2 separate regions of the Homo sapiens genome follow, and region 2 is linked to region 1. The links come from fine-mapping of genetic effects on gene expression. A gene starts in region 1. The other region holds a variant in brackets. All regions are shown on one strand. Distances are between the middles of the regions.

Region 1 (5,500 bases):
TGTGGGCAGGGACTTGTATTTTTTATCCAGGTCCCCTGGCACCTACACAGTGTGAGATACTGATTTAGGTGCTTAGCATTCAGCAGTGAACCTAGCAAACAAAAATCCCTGTCCTCATGAAGCACACATTGTGATTGTGAGGGGTGGGGGAACAGATCGAAAATAAGTAAAATGTAGAGCATATTAGTAAGTTACAAGTGTTGGCCGGGCGCAGTGGCTCATGCCTGTAATCCCAGCACTTTGGAAGGCCGAGGCAGGTGGATCACCTGAGGTCAGGAGTTCAAGACTAGCTTGGCCAACATGGTGAAACCCCGTCTCTACTAAAAATACAAAAAATTAGTCGGGCATGGTGGCAGGCACCTGTAGTCACAGCTACTCGGGAGGCTGAGGCAGGAGAATCTCTTGAAACCAGGAGGCGGAGGTTGCACTGCGCTGAGATCGTGTCACTGCACTCCAGCCTGGGCGACAGAGCAAGACTCTATCTCAAAAAAAAAAAGAAAGAAAAAAAGAAAGTGACAAGTGTTGGCCAGGCGTGCTGGCTCACGCCTGTAATCCCAACACTTTGGGATCCAAGGCAGGTGGATCACTTGAGGTCAGGAGTTCGAGACCAGCCTGACCAAATGATGAAACCCCGTCTCTATTAAAAGTACAAAAAGTTAGCTGGGCATGTAGTCCTAGCTACTTGAGAGGCTGAGACCCAAGAATCACTTGAACCCAGGAGGCGGAGGTTGCAGTGAGCCACTGCCCTCCAGCCTGGGGGACAGAGTAAGACTCTGTCTCAAAAAAAAAAAAAAAAGAAGAGAAAAAGAAAGAAAATAAAATAAAAAAGAAAGTGACAGTTAAAGACAAGAATAGACAGCAGGGAAGGAGGATAGGAAGAGTAGGGGGTGAGGCTGTGAGAAAGCCTTTATGGTATCCAGTATGAGGGAACAGATCTCTAGACTTGCACTGGCCGGACAAAGGTCTTGAGGCTGGAGGGGAGGAGGCTGCCCGCGATCAAGTTACAGCAAGGAGGATGGTGTGGCTGGAGAGGTGGTGAGCACAGGGGGTGGTGTCGAAGGGGAGGTCAGAGAGGTAGAGCAAGCCTACAGATCAGATAGGCCTTGTGGGTCACAATAAGGACTTTGGCTTTTGCTCTGACATAGGAGCCGCTGGTGGGTTTCTAGCAGAGAAGTGGCATGATCTCATTTTAACAGGAGCACTCTGGCTGCTGTATTGAGAAAACACTCAAGGAGGACAAGGACAGAAAAAGATCAGTGAGGAGTTTGCTGTGACAATCCAGGTGAGAGGCGACGGGTCTTGGACCAAGGCCACAGTGAGAAAGTGGAGGGTGAAGCATCTGAACATGAAGAGTAGGAGATGACTCTACATTTTTTTTTAATAGAAATGGGGGTCTCGCTATGCTGGCCAGGTTGGTCTTGAACTCCTGGCCTCAAGCGATCCTCCCACCTCGGCCTCCCAAAGTGCTGGGATTACAGGCGTAAGCCACCAAGCCTGGCCTCTACATTTTTGACCTGGGCAACAGGAAAGGAACTGAGATGAGGAAGACTGTGGGAGGAGAAAGATTGATAGAAAAGATCAGGATGAGTTTGTCTACTAGACAGCTAAAGGAACTGGGGCCTGGATGGCTGGATACAGAAGTCCAGGGTTCAGGAAAGATGGTCTAGGCTGAAAGTATACATTTGGGCATCATTAGCATAAAGATGCTCTTTAAAGCCTTGAGGACCAGATGAGATCACTAAGGGAAGCAAGTGTTTCAAGGAAGAGGGAGTGATTCACTAAGTCAAATGCTGCTGATAGGGCAAGTGAAGATGGGGCGTGGCAATGAATGAATAAACGCCAGGCCTGTTAGATATGCAAAGCGCCAGTGATTATTGAGGGTTAACTGACAACAGACAGGTGTAGAGACAAGATGGCTCTAAGTCACAGGAACACTTAGAGACACAGGGAAGGGAAGAACTATGGCATCTTGGAGTTGGAAAGGACCTTAACTAGGTCATTGAATCTGTACTCTTTTCCCCACCCTAGCCTGACAATTGAACCCTTGGCTGTAGAACAAGAAATATTTGCGGGATACTGAGGCAAACAGTCTGGCTAGGTAGGTTAGAGAAAGTACCGTTGAAGAATGAGAAAAAGGGTACTTCAGTAAATGCTGGACAGCAGAGGCAGGGTGAGGGAGTGGAGATGACCTTCCGAAGTCAGAAAACCAAGGTTCAGGTCCTGTATCTGCTGCTCCCTAGCCTCCTGTCCTTGGGCAAGTCACTTCACCTTCTCCAGCCTCAGTTTCCCCATGCGGCGACATCTGAATATGGTAGTGCTTGAAGGTAGTGTAAAAGTGTCCTGCCTGTGTTAGTTACTGCCAGAGCAAGGGAAGGAGGCCAAGAGAAGCCCTTGGTTTGGGATGGCAGATAGGACTATCAAGATCTCCGCAGGTGGGCTGGCGCAACGTGTGGAGAAGCGAACCAGCATTCAGGCCAGGACCTGGGCTGGAATGGACTGGGCTCGGGTGGCAAGGGGGCCATCTGGACAAAGACCGTGGCCCTGAATCTGCCTCCCCTGAGCCTGGAACGGAGGTGGAGACCCCGAGGCAGCAACAGGGAGAAGAAATAGAGACGCTGAGGCAGAGAGACCAGAAGACTCAGAGACGGGGAGACTAAGAGACAGACCCAGCAACAGGCGGCCTCACGGGGGCCCGCGGCGACCCGGAGAGGGCGAGGCACCGGGACACAGACCCGGGCCGAGAGGAGCCCCCGCGAGGCGCAGGGCCGTGGCGCGCGGGCGCAGGGTCCCCGGCGGGGCCAGGGTGGCCACACTCGCCGGGCGCCCCCTCCCGGGCCGCTCGCCCAAGATGGCGATGGAGGGGCGGGTGAGGCGGCAGCGGCCCTGGCCCCCGCGCCGGCCCCAGCTCGGGCCCGGGCCCCCGAGGCCGCGCCCCCGCCCGCGGCGCCGCGCCTCCCCGGGCCACTGACGCCCGGCGCGCTCTCCCCCCGCGGCGGCGGCCGAAGCACGGGGAGGCGGCGGCGGCGGCGGCGGCCCGAGCCCAGCCCCATGGCGCGGGGGGACGCCGGCCGCGGCCGCGGGCTCCTCGCGTTGACCTTCTGCCTGTTGGCCGCGCGCGGTAAGGGCGGGCGCCCGGAGAGGCAGGAGCGACTGCGGAGTGCTGGTGCGCCCGCGCCCTGGTCTGCATCGGGCTGCGGGGCTGGCTCAAGCCGGAGTCCCGAGCAAGTGCGGGGGCTGCGCGTCCAGGTGCCCGCGATGCCTGCGCGGGGGTCTGCGAGCTGCGGCCGGGGGGCGTTTGTGGGGCGTGCTTGTCCGCAGTGGGTGTGTGCCTTTGGTTCGCAGAGTCTGGAGTCGTGTGTGTGTGTGTGTGTGTGTGTGTGTGTGTGTGTGTTGGGAGTGCTCCTGTCGTGTCCGCAGTGCGTGCCATGGTCGCGGCGTGGCATCGGCGGGGCGGGTAGCTGCGGTGTCGGTGGCTTTCGCGGGGCGGGCTCTGCCTTGCCTGCGCGTGTCTTGGGTTGAGAGTGTGTGTAAAAGAGGAGGGAACTGGGGTTGTGTCTGCACCTCCATTTGGGTCGGGTGCGTGTGCAATTGTGTTTATGGGGCTGAGCTAATATTTGGCCTTGGCATTTGGGAAGTGTCCTTGCCCATAGTGGGGGACAGAGCGATGGATCCCGTTTGACTGGGGGTGGTGGTGATAAAACAACACTCAACTTTGCCCAGTGGGTGTGGTCCCTGGGGCCGGTTAGAGAGGGGTAGAGGGAGGTGTTGCTCCCCAAAACCTGTGGCCAGCAGTGGACTGGGGGAGGGGGCAGGAAACCATTTGCTTTCGTGGACATGTCCAGCGCTTGTTCTCACGATGGGACGCGTGTCACCCCGGCCCCACCCCCCAGGGACCGACCAGGGAAGCGTGGACGAGGTCAGCAGGGCCTCATCCAGTCCGCAGCCCAGTGCGGAGTGGGTACGGGGTAAGTCAGAGTTGTCCAAGCTGGAGAAAGGGCTGGGGAGGGGATAGCGAAGTCCCCAAGGGTGTGTGTCTAGGGCTGCGGCTTCCACCCACAGCTCTGTCGCTTCCTGTCCGGTGTGCGTTTGGGGGCGGCTCATGGGGAGTGTAGGTGGCAGGGCTGGGAGGGGGATGGGCTGGCCGCTTTGTTCGCCTAGTTCTTGCCTTCCCCGCGGAGGGGGGAGCTGAGGATGTGTCCGGGGAGAGTCGGGGAGGGACTTGGAGGTGGGGGTGGGGAGGGGGATTTCTCTCCAGCTGCTGCGGCTTTCCAGAGAGACTCAGCCAGGCCACGTGGGAGGGAGGCGGGGGGAAGGAGCCTCCGCCTGGCCAGCCCCAGGCCCATCTCCAGGAAAACCAAACAGCGGGTGGGAAAGTGCCGGGAACTCCTCGGACCCCTTCTGTCCCTACAAAGACACGCCCCTTTCCAGCCCCAACAGCGGATTAAGCTGGAGGCCGCCGCGAGGCTGGGTCTCGGCTGCTGGGCCAGAGGAGCTGGAGGCCCTGGCTTGTCAGGTGAAAGGGGCGGGGAAGTGTCAGAGAGAGGTCTGTCTTCCCAGAGCTCAGGGGATTAAGGAATAGTTCCCCTGCCCCACCTTCCGCTATTCCTAGGGCTCCTGGAACGAGCTCAGGGTCACCCAGCTAAACGGCATCAGGGCTGGGAACCGCACCGGCGCATTATTCAATACCTTTAGGACCTGCCGCGAGGGACCCAGCTTCCCTGGCCTCTCCCTGCTCCCGAACGCACAAAGCAGGCGAGGGACCGAGTTGCGGCGTCTCTTGGTTGCAGTGTGAGTGGCTACAACAGCTTGCCCTGGTCCTCCAAATCTCAGCAGGCCGGGGGACACTCCAGTCGAGTCATGACTAGCCACCCTGATCTGTACTGAGGTCATTCATTCGTTCAACAAATATTTATGGAGCACCTTTTATAGGCTAGCTTGTGCCTAGTGCCTAGAATATAGTAAATAAGGAGGCAGACCTGATCCCTGGTGCAAAGCTTTCAGTCTGGTGGAGGGGGAAACTGACAAGTCCCCTGAAGTGCTGGGGAAGACGCAGGAAGGAGGGGCTCCTACACCGATCTGGGAAGGTCAGCAAAAGCTTCCTGAAGAAAGTGATGAGTAGTAGAGCTCGACATGGAGTTAGCCCTGTAGAAGGAGAATGATGATGGGGACAGTTTTCCAGAGAACAGCATGTGCAAAGTTCAGAGGTGATTTAGTTGAGATCATTGGATTAAACTAAATCTAGCTGGAGTTTAGGGACAAGGGGTGGATGGGGGGCAGGTGAGGGAAGCATGGAAAGGGGTCAGGGAGTATCAAGACAGGAGGCTGAAGAGGGGAGCTAGATCCAGCTCACAAAGGGCTTTACAGGGCCCACCAAGGTTTCTGGCCTGAGAGTCCCCATGAGCCCTTGACAGGATTTAAAATCAGCTTTGCATCATCTCATTCCAGCCAGTGTGGAGGATGGATTGGGTGGGGCTGGAGGCAGGAAGCTCCAGCTCCTTCG
Region 2 (5,000 bases), 39 kb before region 1:
TCTTGTTCTGTCGCTCAGGCTGGAGTGCAGTGGCGCAGTCACAGGGCACAGCTCAATGTAGCCTCAACCTCCTGGGCTCAGTCAATCTTCCTGCCTCAGCCTCCTGAGTAGCTGGGACTACAGGAGCACACCTCCATGCCTGGGTAATTTTTGTATTTTTTTGTAGAGACAGGGTTTTGCCATGCCACCCAGGCTGGTCACAAACTCTTGGGCTCAAGCAATCCACCCACCTCAGCCTCCCAAAATGCTAGGATTGTAGGTGTGAGCCACCGTGCCTGGCCTAGTTTTGTTTTTTTTAAATTATTTATTTATTTTTTTGAGATGGAGTCTCGCTCTGTCACCCAGGCTGGAGTGCAGTGGCGTGATCTCAGCTCACTGCAAGCTCCACCTCCCGGGTTCACACCCTTCTCCTGCCTCAGCCTCCCGAGTAGCTGGGGCTACAGGCGCCTGCCACCATGCCCAGCTAATTTTTTGTATTTTTAGTAGAGGCGGGGTTTCACCGTGTTAGCCAGGATGGTCTCAAACTCCTGACCTTGTGATCCACCTGCCTCGGCCTCCCAAAGTGCTGGGATTACAGGCATGAGCCACTGCGCCCGGCCTAGTTTTGTTTTTAAAGATGAATATACTCTTGCTTAAATTCTAGCTTATCATCTGAAAGAGGGGTGGTCAGTTTGTGTTGGCGGGGCTGACTTTTAATATCTTGTTTCTTGTTCCCAGATTGTAGCACTCCCATAAGAACTCTTTTGTAGACTCTGTTATGTTACCTATTCACAGGTCCTCTTCCTGACTATACTCCTCCAGAAATTTTCTCTTTTGAAAGTACTACTGGATTTACATTGTATGGGATGCTCTACAAGCCTCATGATCTACAGCCTGGAAAGAAATATCCTACTGTGCTGTTCATATATGGTGGTCCTCAGGTGGGCATATTTATATACATATATACATACACCCATATGCATATGTATTTTAGATCTTTTGTTTTTTAAATGTCTAGTCAGTTTAAGATTTTGAGCATTGTTGGGCATTTGCTTTTAATGACTCCGTCTTATATTCCAATTATTCAGTTTAGGGGGTCAGGAAACTGGTTTTTGTTGGAGGTTTAATTTGTAAATCACTGAGTCTTTTTTTTTTTTTTGAGATGGAGTTTTGCTCTTGTTGCCCAGGCTGAAGTACAATGGCGCAATGTCGGCTCACTGCAACCTCCGCCTCCCAGGTTCAAGTGATTCTTCTGCCTCAGCCTCCCAAGTAGCTGGGATTACAGGCATACATCACCATGCCCAGCTAATTTTTAAAATATTTTTAGTAGACATGGGATTTCACCATGTTGGTCAGGCTGGTCTCCAACTCCTGACCTCAAGTGACCCACCCGCCTCAGGCTCCCAAAGTGTTGGGATTACAGGCGTGAGCCACCGTGCCCTGCCACTAAGGCAGTTCCTTAATTTGCAGTGTGGACTATAGTTCTGTGAGGAGTGCGGTGTTCATGTCAGTAGGTAAATATGTTGCTTTCTATGTAGAGAAACTTGTTTGGGAAATAAAATGAAATAATTAAATGTCTTGGTAAATCAAAAGAGTCTTAACAGATATTTTTAGAAAGCTTTGGTAGCCTAGTGAATTCTCCCTCTTCATTCTAAAGCTGTGTCTCTCAAGCAAATTAAAATATTTTTATCAGCTAGTTAAGGCAACTGCTATACTACTATTTAGCACTGTAAGAAGTTTATACCTTGATTTTCCTTATTCTGGATTAAGTATTAGCCAATGACTGTTAAGTAAATGCTTTGACTATTGGAGTGAAATATTTTGGCCAGGCGCAGTGGCTCACGCCTGTAATCCCAGCACTTTGGGAGGCCGAGGTGGGCAGATCACAAGGTCAGGAGATCGAGACCATCCTGGCCAACAATGATGAAACCCTATCGCTACTAAAAATATAAAAATTAGCTGGGCGTGGTAGTGCGTGCCTAAAATCCCAGCTACTTGGGAGGCTGAGGCAGGAGAATCGCTTGAACCAGGGAGTCAGAGGTTGCGGTGAGCCGAGATAGTGCCACTGTACTCCAGCCTGGTGACAGAGCGAGACTCTGTCCAAAATATATATATTTTGGATGGGTGTATTGGTTAATTGCTAAATTTTAAAATTGTTTATTCTTGATTATATATCCTACACTGAGCCTTGGAAGAAATTAAAATATAATTACAGTCTTTTCATAATGCAATCCTTAGATTCAGTAATACCCTTTAATAATTATACCCAGTTATTTAGTATCTGGAAATGTATCTACATACCAAATTGTACACAAAAAAAGTAAAATAACTACATAAACCATAAAATCTCTAAATCACTTTGCCATCAAGTGTGTTTACAAACAAAATATGATTGACATTTGTATTTTCATCTACACAAGTCATGAAAGAGTTAGCCGGGCGCTGTGGCTCAAGCCTGTAATCCCAGCACTTTGGGAGGCTGAGGCAGCAGGATCACCTGAGGTCAGGAGTTCAAGACCAGCCTGGCCAACATGGCGAAACCTTGTCTCTACTAAAAATACAAAAATTAGTCGGGCGCAGTGGCAGACACCTGTAATCCCAGCTACTAGGGAGACTGAGGCAGGAGAATTGCTCGAACCTGGGAGGTGGAGGTTGCAGTGAGCTGAGATTGTGCCACTACACTGCAGCCCAGGCAACAGAGTAAGACCCTGTCTCAAAAAAGAAAGAAAGGAAGTTAAATTTTAGACTTCTGGTTAAAGCTTGAAGTCAAATATTTGTAAACTT[T/A]AAAAAAAAAAAAACGGTCGGCTGTGCGCGATGGCTCAAGCCTGTAATCCCAGCACTTTGGGAGGCCAAGGCAGGCGGATCATGAGGTCAGAGGTTCAAGACCAGCCTGGCCAACATAGTGGAACCCTGTGTCTACTAAAAATACAAACATTAGCCAGTGGTGGCAAGTGCCTATAGTCCCAGCTACTTGGGAGGCTAAGGCAGGAGAATCGTTTGAACCCAGGTGCTGGAGGGTTGCAGTGAGCCAAGATCGTACCACTGCACTCCGGCCTGGACAACACAGCGAGACTCTGTCTCAAAAAAAAAAAAGGCTTAATAGAAAGCAACTCAAGAGAAAAATCATAGGACACTCTCAAGCTTTATACATTTGTTAAATTATTTTGATGGTAAGACTAAATAAGAAGATTTTCCCCTCCCAGTGAAGAAATGATACAGTATATAGGATTGTTAAAAGACATTCTAAAAACTAGATTTTAAAGATTAGGCTGGGTGTAGTGGCTCATAACTGTAATCTCAGCAATTTGGGAGGGAGGATCACTTGAGCCTAGGAGTTGGGAGACAAGCCTGAGCAACAAAGTGAGACCCCGTCTCTACAGAAAAATAAAGTTAGCTAGGCGTGGTGGCTCATGCCTGCAGTCCCATCTACTCAAGAGGCTGAGGCAGGAGGATCCCCTGAGCCCAGGAGTTCGAGGTTGCAGTGAGTCATAATCATGCCGCTATACTCCAGCCTGGGTGACAGAGCAAGATCCTGTCTCAAGAAAAAGATTTAAAGGATTCCTTATATGAGTAATTAAGTTTAAAGAGGCTTAGCCACATGAAAAGATGCTCAATATGACTAGTCATTAGGGAAATGCAAATCAAAGCCACTGTGAGATACCAGTTCACACCCATTGGATTGGCTGTTATCAAAAAGAGGAAAATATTAAGTGCTGTACAAGATGTAGAGGAATTGGAACCCTGCCTGGTTCATTGCTGGTGAGAATATAAAATGTTATAGCTGCTGTGGAAAACAGTATGGCATTTCCTCAAAATGTCAAACATAGAATTACTATATGAGCCAGAAATTCCACTTCTTGGTATATACCCAGAAGAATTGAAAATATGGACAGGAACAGATACTTATACAGCCATAGCCATAGCAGCATTATGCACAATAGCCAAAAGGCAGTGCACGTGTCCATCAACAGATGAATGGATAAACAAAATGTGGTCTATACATACAACGGAATATTATTTTATTCAGCCTTAAAAAGGAGGATGTTCTGACATATAGTATAACACTGATGAACCTAGAGGGCATTATGCTAAGTGAAATAATTATTGCCAGACACAAAAGGACAAATATTATTCCACCTGTATGAGGTACCTATAATAGGCAAATTCATAGGGATAGAAAGTAGAATAGAAGTTGTCAGGGACTGGATGGAAGGAGGATGGGGAGTGTTTGAGTGCTTTGTTTGTTTGATTCTTTGTTTTTGAGACAGTCTCGCTCTGTCTTCCAGGCTATAATGCAGAGGCATGATCTCAGCTCACTGCCTCCTCCACCTCCTGGGTTCAAGCGATTCTCCTGCTTCAGCGTCCCTAGTAGCTGGGATTACAGGCGTGCACCACCATGCCTGGCTAATTTTTTGTATTTTTAGTAGAGACAGGGTTTCACCATGTTAGCCAGGCTGGTCTCGAACTCCTGACCTCAAATGATCCACCCGCGTCAGCCTCCCATAGTGCTGGTATTACAGACGTAACCCACCATGCCTGTCTGGAAGTTATTAATGGGTACAGAATTTCTGTTTGGGTGATGAAAAAGTTCTGGAAATGGATAGTGGTGATGGTTACACAGCAGCATGAATATATTTAATGTCATTGAATTGTATGCTTAAAATGGTTGAAATGGTAAATTTTATATATATTTTACCATAATTTAAAAAATGTTAGCCAATTCAATTAAAACAATTTTTTTTTTTTTGAGATGGAGTCTCGCTGTGTTGCCTAGGCTGGGGCGCAGTGGCACGATCTCGGCTCACTGCAACCTCCACCTCCCAGGTTCAAGCAATTCTTTTGCCTCAGCCTCTTGAGTAGTTGGGACTACAGGTGCGCAGCACCATACCTGGCTAATTTTTATATTTTTAGTAGAGATGGGGTTTCACCATGTTGGCCAAGATGGTCTCGAACTCCTGACCTCAGGTGATCTACCCACCTCGGCCTCCCAAAGTGCTGGGATTACAGGCGTGAGCCACTGC

Alleles and levels. Alleles are on the strand shown, and positions count from the first base shown. SD is a standard deviation of normalised expression in the study named.
For the expression in esophagus mucosa of the gene that starts at base 2,964 in region 1, A is the high allele of the variant in region 2 and T is the other (moderate effect, 0.52 SD a copy in GTEx).

Evidence for each region. PIP is the estimated chance that this variant, and not a neighbour inherited with it, causes the effect.
Region 2: its variant is the best candidate, but not a certain one, in a credible set for the expression of IGDCC4 in esophagus mucosa (GTEx, PIP 0.84).

What each region holds. Positions count from the first base shown.
Region 1 is chr15:65,420,411-65,425,910 of GRCh38, reverse strand. IGDCC4 (immunoglobulin superfamily DCC subclass member 4) reads left to right here and starts at 2,964. Exons shown (of 20, transcript NM_020962.3): 1 at 2,964-3,118. The coding sequence starts at 3,049. RefSeq lists enhancers at 2,152-2,686, 3,662-3,931, 3,952-4,061.
Region 2 is chr15:65,459,681-65,464,680 of GRCh38, reverse strand. DPP8 (dipeptidyl peptidase 8) reads left to right here. Exons shown (of 20, transcript NM_130434.5): 15 at 775-920. Among named protein-coding and RNA genes, the nearest start is that of IGDCC4, 39 kb to the right of the region's middle. The variant T/A (reference allele first, on the strand shown) is at 2,764.